Homo sapiens: one gene and its partner. The protein of the gene in region 1 purifies or fractionates together with the protein of each later gene. This does not show direct contact. Each region holds a gene or a part of one and is shown on either strand. Other genes may lie near its edges.

Region 1 (7,268 bases):
GGGTTTCACCATGTTGGTCAAGGCTGGTTTTGAACTGCTGAACTCAGGCAATCCACCCACCTCAGCCTCCCAAAGTGCTGGGATTACAGGCGTGAGCCACCGCACCTGGCGTCATTACCTTATTTAATCTTAATTACCTCCCGAAGATCCCTTCTCCAAATGCAGTCACATTGGGAGTGAGGGCTTCAAAATATGAATTTGAGGGGAACACAATTCAGTCTGTGGCATACCTTAAGAAGCTAGAGGGGAACAGAATAAACCCAAAGTATGCAGAAGAAGGGAAAAAGTAAAGATGAATAAAATAGAAAAATTAATGAAATAAAAGACTTTTCTCTGAAAAGATGAATAAAATGATAACTCACTGGGTGCAGTGGCTCACGCCTGTAATCCAGCACTTTGGGAGGCCAAGGTGGGTGGATCACCTGAGGTCAGAAGTTAGAGACCAGCCTGACCAACATGGTGAAAGCCCGTCTCTACTAAAAATACAAAAATTAGCTGGGCATGGTGGCGAGCGCCTGTAGTCCCAGCTCCTCAGGAGGCTGAGGCAGGAGAATCACTTGAACCCCGGAGGCAGAGGTTGCAGTGAGCCGAGATCGTGCCACTGCACTCCATCCTGGGTGACAGCAAGACTTTGCCTCTAAAGAAGACAAACAAACAAAAAAATGATAACTCTCCAGTCAGACTTATAAAAAGAGAAAAAAGATGTAAATCACCAGTATCAGGAATGAAGGAGTAGACATCAATATAGATCTTACAGATTAAGATAATATTTTGAATAACTTTATGCCAAGAAATTATACAATTTAGATGAAATGGAGAAATATTTTGAGAAACGCAAACTGCTGAAGATCACACAAGAAGAAAAAGAACCTGAATAGCCCCTATTTCTGAAAGAAATTGAAGTCATAGTTAAAAGCCCTCCCACAGAGAAAGCTGTAGGCCCTGGTGGCTTCACTTGTGAATTCTACCAAACATTTAAGGAAGAAATGTTACCAGTTCTACATAAAGTCTTTCAGAAGATAGAAATATCTCTGATCCCAAAGAAAAATCTAAAGAATCTACAAAGTAAGTTGCCACCTTACTGCAACTAAAAAGTTGTAGAGCGTTTAGTGAGGTGATAGGATACAAGGTCAATATGTAAAGACAGTGTATTTCTATGTCCTAGCCACAAACAATTAGAAGTTAAAATGAAAGTATACCTCACTTCAGCTGATTAAGAACAAGAGTATGAATTAAAATTAGACTGCTTGGGGCCAGGTGCGGTGGCTCACACCTGTAATCCCACTTTGGGAGGCCAAGGTGGGCAGATTACGAGGTCAGGAGCTCAAGACCAGACTCACCAACATGGTGAAACCCCGTCTTTACTAAAGATGTAAAAAATTAGCCAGGCGTGGTGGCGTGCGCCTGTAATCCTAGCTACTTGGGAGGCTGAGGCAGGAGAATCGCTTGAACTCAGGAGGCAGAGGTTGCAGAGAGTTGAGATTGTGCCATTGCACTCCAGCCTGGGAGGCAAGATGAGACTCCGTCTCGGAAAAAAAAAGTTAGACTGCTTGGGTATAAATGGGAGCCCTGTCATTGAGTAGATGCATGATTTTTAATAAATTTTTAAATTTCTATGCTTTGGTTTTATTGTTTATAAACAATTGTATAATCACACCTTTGCAGAGTTTGCAAAAAAAACATACACAGAAAGCCTCGATAGCTCAGTGTCTGCCACAGAGCTGAGAGAAACAGATGTCTACTCCCATTTTACAAACAGAGGTAGAGGAAGTGCCTTGCCTGAGGCCAGGGTTGAATTCTGCCTTCACCCATTTTGTCAGCAACACACTGGTGGAGAAGAGAGCTCTGGTGGGCACTGTTCTCTCAGGCAGGCTCAGAAGTGGGCGGGAGCATAGATACAGCTCCCACAGGGCTGTTTCTGCCACAGACATGGACGTCTCGCTGCCTAATGAAGTTCTATGCTGTGGTGGCCACCTCACCTGCATCTTGGGAGAGCCACAAGATTGCAGAGAGGATAGAACAGAGGATCCTGAACTCCAACCCTGTCATGGAAGCTTTTGGTGAGCTTGGGCTCCTTTGCACAGTATCTCAGTCCCATTTCCTCTGGGATTTTCCACCTTCCAGGGAGAGGGACAGTGCTTTGAGACCCTCTCTTGGGTGGGGGTGGAGGATGAGTGTATCCTTCACTGCCTCAGATCCCCAACCTCTCCCTGGTACTCCTTAGCATCATTCTAACAGAGGTCATGTCATTCAGTCCTCTTCCTCGCTCCAGCCTAGGCACACATAACAGTCGTGCTGGAGAAGACCTGGTGGCTTAGCTCGTCCAAATTCTGTCTTTCTATCCAGTTTCCTGATGGTTCAATGAAGGGTACTTGTTAAGGGATACAAGGTGATTAGTGTTTGTGTTGGCACTGGAACCCAGATGTGCCTTCCTGTCTAAAGTCAGTAGTGACAGCTGATTGTTTTTGACCTTTCCCTTCAAAGAAAGGTCCCTGACTGCCTAGGCTTGCTCATTCCAATTTCTTGCCAGGAATTTCTTCTAACTCCCCTGAATCCCACTTGCTAAAGCATGAGGGCCCATTTTCTAGTCCTGTCCCCTATGACATGAAAACCAACAAAGGGGCCTTTAGGTGACTTGAGCACGGGAACATGACCTCCAGAGACCTGCAGCCACCTTGGCTTATGAGGACTCTGCAAACCCAGGGGAGTGAAATAAACATAGGTGTGATCTGTAGGGAATGCGTGTACACTGAGGAATAACAACAGCAGTCGCTTTGGGAAGTTCATCCAGCTCCAGCTGAACAGGTAATAGCTGCTGTTGCCCTGGCTAGTGGGAGGATGGGACTGGGGAGGTTGAAAGTGGCTGGGGCAGTATCTGGCCTGGGCCACCCCTATGGGCAAAAACCCTGCTCCTCCTGGTGCATGCCCTTTACCTCAGGTGTGAGCTCTGAGGGTGATCTTTGCACCTGGAGAACTATAGCTCCTCTCCCCTTGGGGAACCCTGGGGCAGTGCGCTTATTCAGGCCTGGGTTCCTCCTGGCTTTTACTCTTGCTCAGGGACTTCAAGCTAAATTGCCACCTCTTTGGACCATATCCCTGAGCTTGAGGCTGAGACTTCGACTCCTGTCTTGGGGTAGAGCAAAGTGATGTGCAGAGGCCTTGGCCCTGCCCACCTGAGCTAGATGCAGGGGAATATTCCAGGACACCCAAGGACATTCTGAGTGGTCCCCACCCCTCAGTGCCCATTGGCTAAGTGGAAGAGCTTGGCGGGGAGTTGCCAGGTAGCAGGCAATCTGGCACACCCAGATTGCCAGACATGGCTATGGAATGAATGGGCAACTAACGGGCTCTGGCCTGTGTGTGTCCCAGGGCTCAGCAAATGACTGGAGCCGCAGTCCAGACCTACCTCCTAGAGAAAACTCGAGTGGCCTGCCAGGCTTCCAGTGAGAGGAACTTCCACATCTTCTATCAGGTTTGTGCCAAATGGGGCCACAGCCCCCCAGATGCGAGACAGGGATGGGTCCGTGTTTTTCAACCCCCCACTCCCCAGAATGCTCCATACCTGGTTCCTTCACCTAGCTTTTGATGGAGCCACCACTTTATCCTGCAGACTTTACATGCAGCACTTCTGCCTCACACTGCGCCTTGGCTCCCAGCACAGTTGTGGCCTGGGAGTATGTTTTACCTCCTCCATCAGACCAGAAGGTCCTTGAGGCTGGGACTGTATCTCTAGGGTGGAAGCCGTGTCACTCTTATCATTTTAAGGGCTCTCCTAGAATGGCATCTGTCGCTAACAGAACAAGGGCTTCCCTAGAGTTGTGCCTTTTCCATCGGACTGGGAGTCCCCCAAGGCATGGATAGGATATCTCCCTTTCTCTCAAAATCGGAGCATCCTTAGGTGATGGGTATGCCTCCCACGTCAAGACGACGGACTCCCTGGGCAGGAGTTGTCCTTTTTTCACCAGACTGCAGGTTTCCCTAGAGCAAGGTTCTTTTGCATCAGGTTGGAGACATCCAGGGCTATGTTTACGGCATCTTTTGCCCCCATACCTGCCGTGGGCTCTCGGAAGGGACCTCTGAGCCTTGTGATGTTGCTACCAACTCTCCTCTTATCCCAACCCCATGCCTGCCTATGCAGGCCTGGGCTTTTCTCAGACCCCCTACCCAGCCTCCCACCTACCCTTCTCCACAGATTTGCAAAGGAGCCAGTGAGGACGAGAGGCTCCAGTGGCACCTTCCTGAGGGAGCTGCCTTCTCCTGGCTGCCCAACCCAGAGAGGAGCTTAGAAGGTAAGGGGAGCCCCATCCAGCACCTTGCGCTGACCCAGCATCACCCACCCACTCTGTACAGAGCCTGCCTCCCTCGCATCTTGCTGCTGCTGACCTCTGCCCCGAACTTGGATTCTTTTTCAGAGGATTGTTTTGAGGTGACCAGAGAGGCCATGCTCCATTTGGGCATTGACACCCCTACCCAGAACAACATCTTTAAGGTCAGAAGAAAAGCCACGCCACTTAAGTTTGGCAGAGATGACGGGCAGCCCTTTGCATAGAGCTTTTCCCTGGACTTGGAGTTGGTCTTTCCCTGAGGATCTAGGACTTTGGGCCCTTCTGTGCTACCTCCAAGGAATCAGTCACCTCTGTTCTGCTGAGTCTGGAGACCAGGTGGTGGGGTGGACGGGGCATAAGGAAGAGTGATGCATACACAGTGCTAGAGTACAGAATGCAGTAAGTGATCCATGGGGGCAGAGAGCAAGGTACCGCATGATCAGAAGAGAGAACTAGTGCTACCGCCTTGCTTGTCTAGTACATTAAAACTTACAAGTCATGTTCACACTTCTCTGCTCACTTAGTTTTTTAAACAGTCCTCTGTGTGTGTTTATTTCCCTTTATGCCTGAGAAAACCAGAGAGGTAAAGTGACGTGCCCAAGGTCAGATACCACTAAGTGGTGATACAGAGTACCAGACATAGTAATTCCAAGTTCCTACCCTCTCTGTCTTCCCCCAACCCGTGCCCCGTCGTCCTCTGGAACATGAGACTGCCCCAGGTGAGCTGGGCTCCTCTCAGTCACACTAGGGGGGCCTCCCTTCTGTCTTTGCTGACAGAGCTGACTACCTCCTCTCATCTTCCTCACCCTCTAGAGCAGCAGGAGGGGATAGATAGGATGGCCTGGCAGTCGAGAAAGGGAGGCCACTTCAGGGAGGTAGCAATGCAGTGGAAAGTGACCCTCACCTCCAGATGGGGGCTGCTCAGACACTGCCAGGTAAGAACTTGACAGAAGGACAGTACCTGGGGACAAGCCCAGGATAAGTGGACAACACTGGGAGTCGGGGCAGGAGTGCTTTGGGGGTGGGCATGACCCTCTGCCACAGCCCTTCTGCCTGGTGGGCATGGCAGTCTTCTGGAGCAAGTTGTGGCCGGAAGACCAGTAGCACATGGAGGCACCCTGCCTGGGACCATATAGGAATGGTGGGTGGGGTCCCTGTGTCAGGTCTGAGGGTGGTGGTTTTTTCTTTTTTTTTTTTTTTTTTGAGATGGAGTTTTACTCTAGTTGCCCAGTCTAGAGTGCAGTGGCACAATCTCAGCTCACTGCAACCTCCTCTTCCCGGGTTCAAGTGATTCTCCTACCTCAGCCTCCGAGTAGCTGGGATTACAGGCATGTGCCACCACACCCAGCTAATTTTGTGTGTGTGTGTGTGTGTGTGTGTGTGTGTGTGTGTGTGTTTATTTTTAGTAGAGATGGAGGTTCACCATATTGGTCAGGCTGGTCTTAAACTTCTGACTTCAAGTGATCCACCTGCCTCAGCCTCCCAGAGTGCTGGAATTACAAGCGTGTGCCACCATGCCTAGCTGGGTCTGAGGGTTTTGAAGTTGCTGGGCCTTGGTGGGGTGAGGGGAGCTTCTGTCTATAGCCCCAGGGGGCTTGTCGGTGTGGAACATTGAGTACAAAGGCAAAGGGGCACCCATCGGACACAGACCAAGGTCACAGTGCCTCCAGCAGGCTGGGCTCTCAGAAGCCTGACAGTGGGAAAGGGCTCAAGGAAGCAGAGACAAGCCTCCAGCAGGCACACAGAAGCAGCCCTGCCCCCAGTCACCAGTCTATTCCTAGAGAGCAGGGGGCAGAAATGTAGAGGATGGGTGGGCATGGAGGCCCACAGGCTGCCCCAGGAGACATCTGAAGTCAGCCTGGGTTCTCATCCCACCTTTCCCCTCAGGAAGCACGTGTCCTCAGTCTCATCTCTATCATAGGCAGTGGCGTAGCACATACCTTACAGGTTGTTGAAAAGTTGCAATGAGGCGATGCATGTAACTTGTATAGAATTGTGTCTGGCAGAGATGGGCACTTGGGCCATGATTGGGAGCTGCCCTTCTGCTGTCGTGATTGTACTCAGCAGAACGGCCCTTCCCAGAGTAGGCCCACGTCACGCCCTCTCCTACTCCCACCCATCCTTTTCTTTCCCCCAGGTCCTAGCTGGACTGCTGCACCTTGGCAATATCCAGTTTGCTGCCTCCGAGGATGAAGCCCAGCCCTGCCAGCCGATGGATGATGCCAAGTGTGAGGGTCAGGGTGTAGGATGGGGCAGGCCCTGTCAGGAAGGTAGCCAGCATTGCTGGGGTTGGGTGGAAGGCTGGATGGTGAAAATTGGAATCTGATGCCCTTGCTTATGCCACCCACCATAGGGCCTGGCCCTGGATCATTTACTCCTCACCCTGTCTGGTGAGGCAGACAGTATCGTCCCCATCTTAAAGATGAGAAAATGAGTCAGAGGTTTGTAAAGTGATTTGTCCCATACATGGCAGCATGGACTGGTACATGAAAGTGCTGGGTTTGAGTTCTGACTGCTGTTTATGGAGTCCTTTGGGTGAGTCACTTCACTGATCAGAACTTAGGTTTCTTCTGTCCAGTTGGGCAAGTCATGGTCCCGCTGTGATGACTTCACAGTGCCTCGTGAAGAGGACTGGATGGAGAGTGATTTGCCTAAAGAGGATTTGCCCCTCCCAGACTCTGTCAGGACGGCAGCCTCGCTGCTGGGGCTCCCAGAGGACGTGCTGCTGGAGATGGTGCAGATTAGAACCATCAGGGCAGGCAGACAGCAGCAGGTGTTCCGGAAGCCCTGCGCCCGAGCCGAGTGTGACACCCGTAGAGACTGCCTGGCCAAACTGATCTATGCGCGGTGAGCAGTTACTCTGGCCCCTTGTTGGGGAGGACCCCGACAAGTGCTCTTCCTGTCCGGGGTTGGGCCAGACAACATCAGGCAATAGGCACAGGC
Region 2 (8,108 bases), on another chromosome or scaffold:
GATCTTCCCACCTCTGCCTCCTAAAGTGCTGGGATTACAGGTGTGAGCAACCATGCCCAGCCCAAAACTCTGACTCTCAAAGAGCATGAGTTTTAAAAGATTTGAAATGGAGAAAAATTTGGTTGAAAAGATTTGACAATTAGCCTATGAAGATGAGTAATTGACAATTACTATAATAACTTTAAGTTTTATGCTACGATTAACATGACTCTCCTTGGACAAAACCATTACCTCATTCAGTAAACAATTACTAAAAGCCTTCTGGGCAGCAGGCCTTTGCAGCCAATAAGATAGATCAGCTAGATCCTGTAACGTGGGAAGGCCAGTGCTATAGGAATAGAAGGACTAGTCAAAGCTAGTCCTTGACCTCTTCAGCATTAGAATCTTAGAACCTGCCTTCATTCTTTGTCTTTTGTTTCTGAATTTTATTCACTGGTTAAGCCAAAATACTTTTTCCAGGCTATGGCCATGGTGCTAAAATCTTGTTTTTTGAATTGAATTTCCATGTCAAGAGAAAAAATTATCATATGCTTTGTTACATCTCTAGTGAAGAACAGATAGCATTGTTTGCACTATATGAAAAACAAGGTACTACTAAAAGGATCTCTTGCAGGGCCCCTGTTTCCCTTTCAGATAAGTGCTTAATGAACCAACTTGCATTAAGAACAATGATGTACCCTGAATGAAATAATTCTCCTAATTTAGTAATAGCATTCTTTGCTTAAACAAGAGTGATTGCCAACAGAAAGGTAAAAGCATCCATTTCAATGGTGTGTTTGACTGAAAAATCAGTCTCAAAAGTTTCCATGATGAAAGTCATACTTAAACCATTTCAAAAGATCTGGCTAGGCACGTTGGCGCACATCTGTAATCCCAGCACTTTGGAAGGTCGAAGTAGGAAGACTGCTTGAAGCCAGAAGATTGACATCAGCCTGGGCAACAAAGCAAAACCCCATCTCTACATAAAAATTAAAAATTAGCCGGACATGGTGGTGGGTGCCTATAGTCCCAGCTACTCTGGAAGCTAAGGTGGAAGGATTGCTTGAGCCCAGGAGTTTGAGGCTGGAGTGAGCTGACTGTGCCACTGTACTCCAGCCTGGGGTGACAGCGAGACCCTGTCTTGAAAAAGAAAACAAAAATCGGACAAAACCAGCCTAATGGGGGTGGCATCCTTATCCACCTGCATATGATGATATGGTCATTTTGATTCCAGGCCCCAAATTTTACTTGATGAAAGAATCTATAACTTGATGAGAGCAGGAATTGAATGCTCCTGGGAAAGAAAGGAGGAAGGCCTGAGCATAAGAGACAAGTAACAGCAAATTGAGAAGGAAAGGAAACCATTTGCTACAAAGTGAAAAGAGGAAGGACAGCAAGAGGCTTAACACCTAGACTTGAGGATCAGATAAAAAATGATCAGAGTTTGGAGAGGTAAATAGAGCCACAAAAACAGTCTTACGGAAACCTAGTTAATTTCAAGAGTAAGGAGGTTGGCAGTGTCCAACACAGAAAAGTGGAGTATGGGAAGGTTTAAATGAGACCCTCCCAGATGTGACAAGTCGTTAGTCATGTTTGCTAGAGTTATTAGAGTTCTGAGTGCAGAATCCATAATGCAGCACAGGATAGTGAATAATGCCTAGGTGTGGGGTCAGGCAGACCTACACTTAATTCCCGTTTGTTGCTACGTCATGGCTCTATAACCTTAAGTCAGTTATTTAAACTTCCTTGGCCTATTTATTCATTTATAAAACGGAAATAATACTGTTGGTTCATATTAGGAACATAATATATAAAGCAGCATTTGTGTGATTAAGAGCAGCACGGATTTGGAGCCATACTTAAGTGAATTGCACCTGCCTATTTGACTTTGTGTTCTTAATTGCCAGTTTCCTCATCTGTAAAATGGCCAATACCATCCAAGTTTCTTCTGAAAATTAGAAGCATGAAAGACAAATGGTCTGGGACACATTAGGTCTCCAAATAGTAGTTATTTTGTTTACGAGTGGGCCAGTGAGAAGGGGCAAAGGGCATATCTTCAAATTCAAGCCTGTTTATAGGCAGAGTAGAAGACAACAAACTAGGGGGGAACAATTAGTGAAACAAAATGGATCATGTCTAAGAGCTAGGATGTGACAGAACCTAGACCACGTAGGATTGCCCTTAGAAAAGTGGATGGATTTCAAGGTAGAATTTCATTAACAGGTTGTTAGGAAGATTTTATAAGACTATGCATACAAATGCCTGTCAGTTTGGTACTAGTGGATTCTGAAATAGTTCACTTTCGATTTCCTGAGCAGGTCCAATATGCCAGACTTGTGTGTGTCGAATTAGGTCCTCTTCACGGGTACAGTTTATTTTTTCTGTCCATAAAGGGATTGTAGTAGCTAATCCCACATTGAAGAAATGCCCAGTTTTCCCATTGCTGCTTATTCGAGTCATTTCCACTTGCTCTTCCATCTTCCAAGTCCCTATATCTTTTTAGTCTAGATTTCTCTGTGTCTGCTCAAATAGCAGGAAATGTGACTTTTCTCCAGTATTTATCCACACACATTTTAGAGTTGTAATGAGTTTACAACTTGTTTTTTCGTTTACTACTTAAATTATATCTCATGTTTTGGCATAGCCACCATTGTTTTGAGTATATTTCTTTTTCAACCATTCTTAACTTCAGTTATCTTTGATGTGGGCATGCTATAATTAACAATTTCCCAATGATAGATATTTAGCTATCCAGCTATTTTTATTAGTGAATAAATTTTTATTCATGATTAAACAAAGCCTATTATAGGCTTTTCTTTTGCATCTAGAGAGAACAATATACCTTAGAATTATTTCTTCAGAATAGTGCTGTCAAATAGAAGCTTCTGTAATTAAGGAAATGCTCTCTGTGCCATACAATAAGGACACTAACCACATGTGGCTATTGAGCACTTAAAATGTGTCTAATACTAGCCAGGCGCGGTGGCTCACGCCTGTAATCCCAGCACTTTTGGAGGCCCAGGTGGGCGGATCATGAGGACAAGAGATTGAGACCATCCTGGCCAACATGGTGAAACCCCGTCTCTACTAAAAATACAAAAATTAGCTGGGCGTCGTGGCACAGGCCTGTAGTCCCTGCTACTCGGGAGGCTAAGGCAGAAGAATCACATGAACCCGGGAGGCAGAGGTTGCAGTGAGCCGAGATCAAACCACTGCACTCCAGCCTGGGCGACGGAGCAAGACTCCGTCTCAAGAAAAAAAAAAGTGTCTAATACTGCCAGACGCACTGGTGCGGTGTCTCTCACCTGTAGTCCCAACTACTTGGGAGGCTCAAGTGAGAGGATCGCTTGAGGCCAGGAGTTCCAGGTTGTAGTGCATTATGATCACGCCTGTGAATAGCCAGTGCATTCCAGGTTAGGCAACATAGGGTGACCCCATCTCTAAAAATAAAACGTATCAAATACAACTGAGGAACTAAATTTAAGTTTAGCTGCATGTGGTTAGTGACGATTGTATTGGACAGCACAATTCTAGAAACTTTTTTTTTTTTAATTTAGACTATCGAACCAAAACCTAAGAGTAAATATTGTAGAACCAGGTGTGACTTTTCAGCAATTGCTTTTCTAACACTATTGAGAAAATACACACAGTTATGAACCGCGTTTAGAGCTGTGCTGCTGGGATGGCGACCACCCCATCAGCATCATGTGTGCTTACCAGAAATTCGAATTATCCTCCACCCCTTACTCACTGAATCCTGATACCCGGTTTTGAGGCTCAAAAATGTTTTTAAAAGCCCTGTTATTATGCGTGCTACTGTTTAAGAACTGCTACAGAGTGCTGAACACAAGGTCCCTCTCTTCTAGGAATTTCTGATCAAAGATTTCTAGAATATAAACTCCCTAAGAGGCTTTGAATTCATCTCTCAGCATCCGGCACATGTTAAGGCAGTAAGAAGAGTTCAATAAAGATTTGCTATTAGATTGCCGATCCTCCACCATCCTGAAGTAATGCTATTTTAGTAATGCTAGATGAAGTAATGCTAGATTACCTCAAGGTGAGGGAAAATATCCTGAAGAACACAGCCACAAACACGATCTAGAACAAAACCTGAAAAACGTAGCTTTGTGTTTTTATTTGTGTGTGCATGTATGTGTGTGCGTTGCCATTTTCTTGATAAAGGAAAGCAAGTAGTTCGAATAAAACTTTCTTGTGGCCAAAAGGGGAATCAAACAGCCGTAGGCTGCGGCCGTAGCCTGATACGGCCGTAAACCTTATGAGGGTAAGCAGAGAGGAGTAGGTTAAAGAATTTAACTCGGGCTGTAATGCGGTTTGAAAAGAGAAAGGGATTCTGGAACGGAGAAGAATCCGCCCAGGCGCCGCCCTCACCTTCTCAACATTACATGAGACGAACCCTAAAACCTGTCTTGTCTGAAATTCAAATTTAGAAGAACTGTACTTTTACTTGCTACATCTGGCAACTCAGGGTTCGGCGCCAGGGGACCCCAAATCCTAGGCGGATCGCGCCCCGCCTGGGTCAAAGGGGACCCCAAATCCTCGGCCGATCGCGGCCCACTCGGGTCAAATTCCAGCGGCCTGCCCAGCCGCGCCCAGCGGGCCCAGGAATGCGGAAGGGTGGCGGAGCTACCAAAGGAGCGGGGGACGAGGGCCGGGCTGCGGACGACCGCCGCAGCGCAGGCCGCGATATCGCAGCGGATCGGAGCAGGCCGGAGGGGCAATTAAGACCCCGGCCGTGTGCGTCCGGCCTCAGCAGCCCCGCCGCTCGGCGGACACGCAGACCCCGCCGGCCCGGGCGCGAACACTCAGCGCACCCCCGTTCCACTTGGTCCCGCCGCGCCTTCCGGTGCGCCTTCCGGTGCGCCTTCCGGTGCGCCTTCCGCTCCGCCCCTTCAGGCAGGAAGTGTCGGCGCCGCCACTGTCCGGCCACAGCCTAACGCTCTTCGCTGTCGTTTGTGGTCTCGCGCAGGGCGGCCCCGGTTCTGGTGTTTGGCGTCGGGTGAGTCGCGCTCGACTCTGCTCGCGAGACCCCTCGGGCCGCCGTCTCCGTACCCCCGCGCCCCCTCCCGTCGCGCGCCTGCGGCCGGACCCCGCCCCAGGGCGGCCAGGCGGCGGCAGGACCTGTCAGACTGGCTGAGAAGGGGGCGCGGGGCCGGAGGTGGAGGGAGGAGGGTTGGCGGCGGGAGGAGGGTTGGTGGCGAGGCCCTGGCCCGGACGTCCAGGGGCCGGGAGGCTGCAGGCGATGGAGCCGGTATGGGGAGACGCCCTGCTGGAGAAGTGGCCGGGTCCCGGCCGTGCGTGGGCCGGCCCTGCGCCACCTGGGTGACCTCAGACACCTGGGCCTTGGACGGCCCGGCTGCCCGGCGGCCAACGCCTGCCCTCCCGGCGCCGCGGCGGGTCCTGGCGGTGGATTGGGGCCGACCCGGGCGTGTTCGTGTGGAGCACCTGCCCTGTGCCCAACACTATCCTAGATGCTTTGGAGGGTGGAGGAGCCTCCTGTTGCACGGTCTTGCCTAAGGTGAAGCCTCCAAGGAAGCCATTAGCATGCCGGTAACCGAGTGTGTGGTTGATACGGGCTCAAATGTGATGATTTACATAGAGTTGTAATTCGCTCAGTGTGTCTTGCATCTTGTAAAGGTTTAGTTTATTCGTGTTGATTGAAGAAAGGACCATTAACAGAAATAGGGAAAGGTTACTTGGAAAAGAGTCGTGACCTCACTGAAGGCCTTGGATTCAACCTTAAGAGGGAGAACTTAGCGTTTCCGGCTAGATGTGTGGGAGGTGGTAACGAGCAAAACTCAAAAGCTGGGAATTGTGTCCTGTGAAAAGCAGGCCGTGGGGACACCGGCGGGTATGGAACAGAACTGTAATGACTAATAGTCGGAAATAAGGGTAGATAGGTAAGTAGGACCTTCTTATGGATGTCTTGAAAACTTAGGAGAAAGAAAAGATTATCTAAGAAGCCATAGAGAGTAATTTTGGAGTCTTCACTAACGGAGTAATAAGAAAGGGATGTTTAGAGGATTCGTTTGGCCGCTTTAGTTTAAGGTAGATTTGGAATGGTCTTTTGGTAAGAGAAGAATCAAAGCATTTAGAATTCAGTAGGACCTGATAGATTACCTTGTGAAGGCTTTGCGTTTTATAACTGAGGAAAGTGAAACCCAGAGAGGTGAGGTAATTTGTCGAAGGTGGTGGACCCTCCTGGACTTTATAACTAAGAGCACTTTTGAGTGCTTTAGGCTCTTTTGAGTGAAACAGCTTTTATGATGGCTGACTCGATGTTCGTTTATGCTTTGATGAAACTAAGCTTGAACAAGATGAACTGCAATTTCTGAAGGACAGATGTCCAGACAAGAGTTGCTAGGGTTAGGAAAGAACAGGATTTAGAGCCCCGACATGGGGCTAGTTTTCCCTTTCTCCCAAGATTCAAAGGCTCCAGGTATATCTGGGGATGAGTTTATCATACCCTTTTTGCCAGCATCTTTGTGATCTTCCTTCCTCATTCTACACATTAGCTTTGGGGTGTCATTGCTTGTTATGCCCAGGTATCCACATTTTCATGGTAGAGAATTTCAGCTGCCTGTATGCAGGATGTTACTGGCTAGTGGTTCAAGCTCTGGAGCTAGATTTCCTGAGTACAGATCCTGACTGAGCTCTGCCATTTTCTAGCTGTGTGGCAAGTTGTTTATTCTCTTTACCCTGATTTTCGTATCTGAGAGAAGAGGATGATAACAATACCTATATGATGAGTTGTCGTGAGGATTAAATGTGTTAACACATACAAAATGCTTAAATCAGTGCCTGGCACATCTTTAGCACCCAGTTGTCCCTGGTTGCTACTGCTTCTTCCAGGTATGGAGCAGTGGGTAGCTACTAAGTTTCCTTAGGGATCTCTTGGGGAAGAGACTGGAACCATAGGTAGACCGTAGAGAAAAGCCTCATGTTGGAATTCAGATCCGGGACCTACCTTGTAATGAACATATATGTGTAATTCTGTTTGTGACAGGAAAGAACTATATATGTATATACACTATATACAACTGTGTATACTATACATATATTTATACATATATATATGTATTTGCTTAACTAGGATTATTTGAGCACCTGCCATGTGCAAGGCACACTGCTAAGTTCTGCAGTCCAAGGTGGAAAGGCAAAAGGCAATAAAAAGAATGAATATGGCCAGGCATGGTGGCTCATACCTGTAATCCTAATGCTTTGAGAAGCCAATGTGGGGGGATCATTTGAAGCCAGGGGTTCAAGACCAACCTGGGCAACATAGCGAGACCCTGTCTCTACCCTGCCACCCACTCCTTGCAAAGTAGCTGTGTATGGTGACTCATGCCTGTAGTCCCAGCTGCTCGAGGCTGAGTCAGGAGGATCACTTGAGTCCAGGAGTTCAAGGCTACAGTGAACTATGATTGTGCCATAAACCCAATAAGAGAGGTGAATTTCAAAAACATTGTATTGAATGAAAGAAGACAGGCATATATATGAATATATACTGTACAATTCCATTTATAAGAAGTTCAAAAACAAAACTAATCTATGGTGATAGAAATCTGAACAGTGGTTGCCTATGGGAGATGGTGATTAACTTGGAGAGAATTTTCTGGAACAGTGTTAACATTTGTAACTTAATGGGGGTGATGGTTACATGGGTATACACATTATAAAAACTTATTAAGGTTTGTACATTTGACTATATAAATTTCACTGCAGTAAAACAAAATGATATAGGAGCTCAGAGAATAGAAAGTTTGCAGCCAACTGTAATGATCATAAAACCTATAATAGAGAAAGAAATGTCATTGTTATAATGTGTATGTGGTAAGTGTTAAAATACATATAGAGTACTAGGGGAAATGCTTCCCTGGTGTTAAAAAAAGTTGAAAAAATTGAGTTTGGCTCCCTAAAAAAAATACTTCTAATAATTTATGGAACTATTTTTTTGCCTAAATATGCAGCACAAAAGCAATTATATGTCATTAGGTAGATGAGGTTACTTTTGTGAAGTATTTTTAACTTGATATATACTAAATTCTGTTTATGACTGCTGTTTTCGGACTGTTGCTTATATATCCAGTCATTTGAGTCTTCCAGTTAGA

The links.
Region 2: the proteins of MYO19 (region 1) and MYL12B purify together in Homo sapiens (co-immunoprecipitation; 2 studies listed by BioGRID and IntAct, with this or other methods). This does not show direct contact.

The regions. Positions count from the first base shown.
Region 1 is NC_000017.11:36,510,650-36,517,917, reverse strand, and holds part of MYO19 (unconventional myosin-XIX), read left to right. Parts: intron 1-1,927; coding exon 1,928-2,060; intron 2,061-2,735; coding exon 2,736-2,805; intron 2,806-3,369; coding exon 3,370-3,472; intron 3,473-4,192; coding exon 4,193-4,289; intron 4,290-4,412; coding exon 4,413-4,489; coding exon of another isoform or gene 4,490-4,549; exon of another isoform or gene 4,550-4,832; intron 4,833-5,034; coding exon of another isoform or gene 5,035-5,044; intron 5,045-5,138; coding exon of another isoform or gene 5,139-5,260; intron 5,261-6,462; coding exon 6,463-6,553; coding exon of another isoform or gene 6,554-6,559; intron 6,560-7,000; coding exon 7,001-7,172; intron 7,173-7,268. UniProt on the Homo sapiens protein: Actin-based motor molecule with ATPase activity that localizes to the mitochondrion outer membrane. Motor protein that moves towards the plus-end of actin filaments. Required for mitochondrial inheritance during mitosis.
Region 2 is NC_000018.10:3,257,242-3,265,349, forward strand, and holds the start of MYL12B (myosin regulatory light chain 12B), read left to right. Parts: upstream 1-4,891; 5' UTR 4,892-4,996; exon of another isoform or gene 4,997-5,118; intron 5,119-5,371; exon of another isoform or gene 5,372-5,543; intron 5,544-8,108. UniProt on the Homo sapiens protein: Myosin regulatory subunit that plays an important role in regulation of both smooth muscle and nonmuscle cell contractile activity via its phosphorylation. Phosphorylation triggers actin polymerization in vascular smooth muscle.